Linked DNA regions of Homo sapiens. The protein of the gene in region 1 purifies or fractionates together with the protein of each later gene. This does not show direct contact. Each region holds a gene or a part of one and is shown on either strand. Other genes may lie near its edges.

What was found. Proteins that work in one complex are often made in the same cells at the same time.
Region 2: the proteins of SLC10A4 (region 1) and KDELR3 purify together in Homo sapiens (affinity purification with mass spectrometry; one large-scale study listed by BioGRID and IntAct). This does not show direct contact.

What each region holds. Positions count from the first base shown.
Region 1 is NC_000004.12:48,486,343-48,490,026, reverse strand, and holds the end of SLC10A4 (sodium/bile acid cotransporter 4), read right to left. Parts: intron 1,601-3,684; coding exon 1,088-1,600; 3' UTR 501-1,087; downstream 1-500. UniProt on the Homo sapiens protein: Transporter for bile acids.
Region 2 is NC_000022.11:38,474,596-38,478,095, forward strand, and holds part of KDELR3 (ER lumen protein-retaining receptor 3), read left to right. Parts: coding exon 1-28; intron 29-3,500.

The sequences.
Region 1 (3,684 bases):
AACCAAGGCGCCCGAGGTGAGGAGGATTTCAATGAGAGAAACTCATCACCGGCATCAGCTGAGCCGGCTTCTCCCGGTGCCCTGATTGTTCCAGGTGCCTGCGCATCCCCCCCACCCCCGCTCCCTCACCGGGAAGCCGAGGCCAGGCCGGGTGCCTCTGGCTAAGTGAGCGAAAGTGCCAAGGTTTGGGAACTGTTCTGGGTCTATTACCCGTTAACTCAGATGATAAGTTTATTCTCAGAGCTGCTCTAAGAGGCTACCCACTGAGCCCCCTCGGCGAGTGCATGGAGAACCACCCAGGGATCTTCATCTAGGCGAATTGTTTTCTCCCCTGGAGCGTGTCCCTTCCCCCAGTCCCAGTGGTGACCGGGAGGTACCGTTTTGTTCTGCTCCAGAGCGGTTCTGAAAAATTTCCCAACCAAATCATTCCTACAAAAGATAAATTGATTTGGGGTGTGTTTACATAAATGCAGAAGACCAGTCGAAAAGAACATGGCTTGTCCACTAGAAAAATGTTGATTATTCATTAATAAGTAGATACCAGATCAAGTAATCAAATACATTAATGTAACTTTTCTCTGATACTGGTTTGACAAATACTATATTTCCTTATTTAACTGACCTGTTTTGGAATTCTTCTGAATACAGGTCAAAATTCAACATTGTGAGGAATTTTAAGTAGAGCAAGCACACTTTTTTTTTTACAACAATTACATTAAACTCAATTATGCTTTACAAAGATAGCTTGTTTTTCCTCATAGTGCGCCAAAATTCTACATTTCCAAGACCCTGTTTTCTAATAGATTCTGTATTTGCAACAGTCATAGAAATTGGTGATGGTAAAAACTAAAAACCACATTTAATTCAGGCTTCACGTTAGCCATTCCAGGTGCAAATTATATTACAGCATTGATTTGTAATTTGTGACAACGTTTGGTTAATACACCAGTGAACCTTAAAAAGATCAGAATTGTTACATGTATGATGTGAACCAGTGTTATCTTTTATGTTAACCATGTGCACTACCACAGGCTATAAATATGAAGCAATATTTCAGCAAGATAGAAGCTCCTGTGTATCTCCACATTTAGAGAGAAGTCTGAGCGGTTTCCATCATTATTATATTTTCTGCTTTCACTGTGCCATAGGAAGTGTCTGCCATTTCCTCTTCTTTTAGTTTTTTATAAGAAATATCTGTATCTTCATCTTCATCTAGAGGATCTCGCTTGTGCAACATTTCACTTCCATACATTTTATAGATTAAAACAAAAATCCCCGCTTCTGCAGACTGGAAAAGTGCATACAGCAAAGGAAACATGTACATGCTTCCTATGAATTGCGGTGGAAAGGCCAGTTTTAGAATGGCTGTACAGAGCTGCACATTCTGACTACCTGTTTCCAGACATACAGTCCTCTTGCAGTTGGGTGGAAGATGGAAGAGAGTAGCTAAACCATAACCTGAAGCGTAGCCTGCCAAAGGCATAAAAATTGCTATCACATAAACAGCTGCAGGGATACTTGCCAGCAGTTCAGGTCCTAACATAGTGCCGGTCATTATGAAAAGGACCACCAGAGTCACTAGCAGAGACCACAGGGAAACCTAGTAATAGAAAATTACAATGAGATGGTTGAAGATGAACTCAGGCGAGAGAATCCTAAGCTCACGGAAGAAAACACCCATCTAGTATGCTCTCCAACACAAAATGGAGACCTTTGACAGAATATTTCTGAAGATGGGCAGGCCACCTCTTCAGGAAGCATCCAGAGCCACATTGGGCAGCTCTGATTGTTTGGAGGCCTGTCCTTATGTCCAGGGACAATTTGCCTTCTATAACCTCTAGCCATTGAGTTGGATATAGGCTCTCAGGAGCGACAGAGACCAGCTCTTCAAAAACAAAAAACAAACAAAAAAACCCAGCTTTTCTGGCCAGGCGCGGTGGCTCACACCTGTAATCCCAGCACTTTGGGAGGCTAAGGTGGGTGGATCATGAGGTCAGGAGTTGAAGACCAGGCTGGCCAAGATGGTGAAACACTGTCTCTACTAAAAATACAAAAATTAGCCAGGTGTGATGGTGAATGCCTGTAATCCCAGCTACTCGGGATGCTGAGGCAGAGAATTGCTTGAACCTGGGAGGTGGAGGTTGCAGTGAGCAGAGATCGCGCCACTGCACTCCAGCCTGGGTGACAGAGCAACACTCCATTTCACCAAAAAAAAAAAAAAAAAAAAAAAAAAAAAAAGCTCTTCAAAAAAAAATAGCCTTCAAAAGCTTTTTTCCTGAAAAACAGCTCTTCAAAAGCTTAAAAACTGGTTATCAGGGGAAGGCTACTCTTCTTCAGGCAGATCATCCCCAAACTTAAACCTCCATCACATAACTTTGTTTTGGTATCCTGACTGTTCTGAGAATGTGTTTCATATGTGAATGTGCCTCTTAAAAACAGGGCATTTAGAACTGAACCTAATACCCCAGGTATGGTCTGATCATCAGAGCAGACAAGTGGATGTTTACTTTCCCTGAACTGAACCCCGTGTTTTCCATAAGAAATTAGTTCTCATTTTACATGAGTTAAAACTTGTGAAACTTGATTAAAATGTCTGAAGCTCAGTGTGTGATCTTTTTAACCCTCAAAATATACTGCAGAGGATTGCTTGCAATATTGAAACAATTACCTACTCTTAGATTATGTAAGAGAGAAAAATGTAAATAAATATGTGAAGAATTCTTTGCAATTTGGCAACTTTCCCCTTTTTTATTTGTTCATGAGAAACCTCCCATCTATAAGTCTGTAATGATGCTTACGTATTATTACAATAGATGGATTTCGGATACAGTACAACTGACTTCTGTATAAAACGTGTCATCTTGATGTTCTGACTGGTACATTTCACTCATTCAAATAAAACAGTCTGTATGAATTGTAAGGCGGAAATCTAAAAATTCCTCTCCTCGTTCTCCTTCATATTGGTAGTTAACTTATTTTTTTTTAATGAGGAGTGGGCAGGGAAAGGAAACTAGAGCCAGAGAGAACAGCTTAAATGTTGCTTCTGGTTCCCTGGATAGCTGGGATATCCCTTTTGCAGTCTTCGGGAATGGCGTAACTCTACACTCTTAAAAAATTATTTAAAATTTATCTGAGCTGGTCACAAATTCTACCCTAGAGGATGCTGCAATAATTATTATATAAGGTACAGATACTACAGATGCATAATTGGCAGAAACCAGGCTATTACATGTAAAAGCATACCATTTCAAAGTATGTCACATTGAAAGCGCTGACAAACAGTCTGATTTCTTCATTTTGAAATATTGGCTCCAAAGTCCCTTAGAACTATTTTAAATCATTTGGGCAAGCATTGACATTGAATGCTCATTTTGAAGTGTTTGCAAAGGTGTAACAATTATATAAACCGTTTCTTAATAGTGTGTTAATTAAAGAATAGGGCTAGGTTAACCTTAAATTCAAAGGTAGCTAATCTTATGTCTATTATATTTAAATATTAAATATATTAATTTATTAATATATTTATTTTAAATATATTTCTTGTTTTGGGTGTGTAAATAGGTCATTTGATTGACTTTCTCTTAGACTTCCTAAGGTTTTATAGTAAATGCCATCACATTAATAGCATTAGCTTAATGATTAAGATTAACAAGTTCTTAATGCATCTCAAGAGTATCTATGAGT
Region 2 (3,500 bases), on another chromosome or scaffold:
CATCTCCATCTACAACACAGTAATGAAGGTGAGGGGCTGGGTGATGATGGTTGGGGGAAGCCACCAAGCCCCCACAAACTGTGAGGTAGCCTGCTTGGAAACTCATTCTGTGGAGCCAGGCCGACCTGGGTTTGAATCCTGACTTTGCTGCTTAGTGGCTGCAAGACCTCATCTTGGGCCTCTTTGTATGTCAGTGTCCTCGTGCAAAAATGAGGACAGGGCTGGGCACTGTGGCTCATGCCTGTAATCCCAGCAATTTGGGAGGCCGAGTCGGGCGGATGGAGACCATCCTGGCTAACAAGGTGAAACCCTGTCTCTACTAAAAATACAAAAAATTAGCCGGGCGTGGTGGCTCATGCCTGCAGTCCCAGCTACTCAGGAGGCTGAGGCAGGAGAGTTGCTTGAACTTGGGAGGCGGAGGTTGCAGTGAGCCGAGATCGCGCCACTGCACTCCACCCTGGGTGACAGAGTGAGACTCTGTCTCAAAAAAAAAAAAAAAAAAAAAAAAAAGACAGTACCATTACTTAGCTCAGAGGGTTTGGTTGGGAACATTAAATGAGATAATAAATGTAAATGTAAAAAACCCTGCCATATATTAAACATTCAATAAAGGGTCACACCTGTAATCCCAGCACTTTGGGAGGCCAAGGCGAGAGGACCGCTTGAGCTCAGGAGTCTGAGACCAGCCTGGGCAATGCAGTGAGACTCCGCCTCTACATAAAATTTAAGAAATTTAGCTGGGCGTAGTGGTGCTCATCTGTGGTCCCAGCTACTCAGGAGGCTGAGGTGGGACAATCACCTGATCTTGGTAGATCAAGGCTGCAGTGAGCCATGATCATGCCACTGTACTCCAGTCTGGGCAACAGAGTGAGATCCCGTCTCAAGAAAAAAAAAATTATTTAGGTGATAGAGAAGGATTAGAGAGCTACTTCAGGGAGTGTGGTCAGGGCATCTTCAAAGAGATGACATGTAAGCTGACAGCTTAGTGACAACAAGGAACCAGCCATGTAAAGATCAAAGGACACACCTTCTTTCTGTTTTTTTAAGACGGAGTCTCACTGTTTTCTGTTGCCCAGGCTGGAGTGCAGCAGCGCAATCTCAGCTCACTGCAGCCTCCACCTCCTGGTTTCAAGCCGGGAGCTTGCCTTGTGCCTCAGCCTCCCAAGTAGCTGGGACTACAGGCATGTGCCACCATGTCCAGCTAATTTTTGTATTTTTAGGAGAGACAGGGTTTCTCCATGTTGGCCAGGCTGGTCTCACGCTCCTGACCTCAAGTGGTCCACCCACCTCGACCTCCCAAAGTGCTGGGATTATGGGTGTGAGCCACCATGCCCAGCCAAGATGTAGATTTTAGTTGGACACATTATCTAATAGGAATCTTATTTCTTGTGCAGTGGTGCGATCATGGCTCACTGCCTCAACTTCCCGGGCTGAAGGGGTCCTCCCACCTCAGACTCCTGAGTAGCTGGGACTACAGGCACGCACCACCATGCCTGGCTAATTTTTTTGTATTTTTAATAGAGACAAGATTTCACCATGTTGCCCAGGCTGGTCTCAAACCCCTGGGCTCAAGTGATCTGCCTGTGTCAGTCTCCCGAAGTTCTGGAATTACCATGATCAGCTAGGAGTCTTTTTTTTTTTTGAGACGGAGTCTCGCTCTGTCGCCCAGGCTGGAGTGCAGTGGGGCAATCTCGGCTCACTGCAAGCTCCGCCTCCCGGGTTCACGCCATTCTCCTGCCTCAGCCTCCCGAGTAGCTGGGACTACAGGCGCCTGCCACTGCGCCCAGCTAAGTTTTGTATTTTTAGTAGAGACAGGGTTTCACCTTATTAGCCAGGATGGTCTCGATCTCCTGACCTTGTTATCTGCCCGCCTCGGCCTCCCGAAGTGCTGGGATTACAGGTGTGAGCCATTGCGCCCGGCCAGGAGTCTTCTTTTTTGTTGTTGTTGAAATGGAGTCTTGCACTGTGGCTCAGGCTGGGGTGCAGTGGTGCAATCTCGGCTCACTGCAACCTCTGCCTCCTGGATTCAAGCAATTCTCCTACCTCAGCCTCCAGAGTAGCTGGGATTACAGGCACCCACCACCACGCCCGGCTACTTTTTGTATTTTTTGATAGAGACGGGGTTTCACTATGTTGGCCAGGCTGGTCTCAAACTCCTGACCTCGTGATCTGCCCACCTTGGCCCCCCAAAGTGTTGGAATTACAGGCGTGAGCCACCACACCTGGCCCCCCCTTTTTTTTTTTTTTTTGAGACAGAGTGGAGTGCAGTGGCACGATCTTGGCTCACTGCAGTCTCTGCTCCCGGGTTCAAGTTATTTATTTATTTATTGTTTAGACAGAATCTAGCTCTGTCGCCCAGGGTGGAGTGCAGTGGCGCGATCTCGGCTCATTGCAACCTCCACCTCCCAAGTTCAAGAGATTCTGCCTCAGCCTCCCGAGTAGCTGGGATTACAGATGTGTGCCACCATGCCTGGCTAACTTTTTTTTTTTTTTTTTTGTATTTTTAATAAAGACGGGGTTTCACCATGTTAGCCAGGATGGTCTCCTGACCTCGTGATCTGCCCACCTCGGCCTCCCAAAGTGTTGGGATTACAGGCATTAGCCACCATGCCCAGTCTTTTTTATTTTGAGACAGTCTCCCTCTGTTGCCCAGGCTGGAGTGCAGTGGTGTGATCTCGGCTCATTGCAACCTCCGCCTCCCAGGTTCAAGCGAATTCTCCTGCCTCAGCCTCCTGAGTAGCTGGGATTACAGGTGCACACCACCATGCCTGGCTAATTTTTGTATTTTTAGTAGAGACGGGGTTTCACTATGTTGGCCGGGCTGGTCTCGAACTCCTGACCTCGTGATCCACCCTCCTCGGCCTCCCAAAGTGCTGGGATTACAGGCGAGAGCCACCGTGCCTGGCCTAGGAATCTTATTTCTAAGGAACAAGGGTTCCATGGGGGAATTCTATCTTGCAGGGCTATTGAGAAGATCACATGAGATAACATACAGCACCTAGAAAATATTTAACTAAAGTGAGTTGTCCTTTTCTTCCATATCAGAGACATCCCTTTGGGATTTCAGGCATGTTGTTACTAGTTGGTAGAGTGGAGGTTGCTGTTACTTGTGAGGTGTTGAACTCATTCAGATTTAGTGAATGTGAATCTGAGGACTGGAAATCACCGTCTACTTAAGTTCACACATGTATCAAACATCACCTGCTAGTTCATTTCTCAGCCCAAGTCAGCCTTGGGCATTCCTGGCAGAGACAGCAGACTCAGCCCTTGCCATAGCTGAATGAGGTCTAGGAAGCTCAAAGAGGCTAGTTTCTACATTTATGAAATGAAAAAGTGACCACCTCATTCACTCATTCCAGCATTTGTTTTGTGCCAGGGACTGAGTTAGGAGCTGGGGATTAGGAGGTGGACCTTGCCACGGAGTCCTCTCTTAGAGGGGAGATGGACTTGTACCTAGACATTTACAGAGCATGTGATCACGGGCTAAAATGAGTATGTTC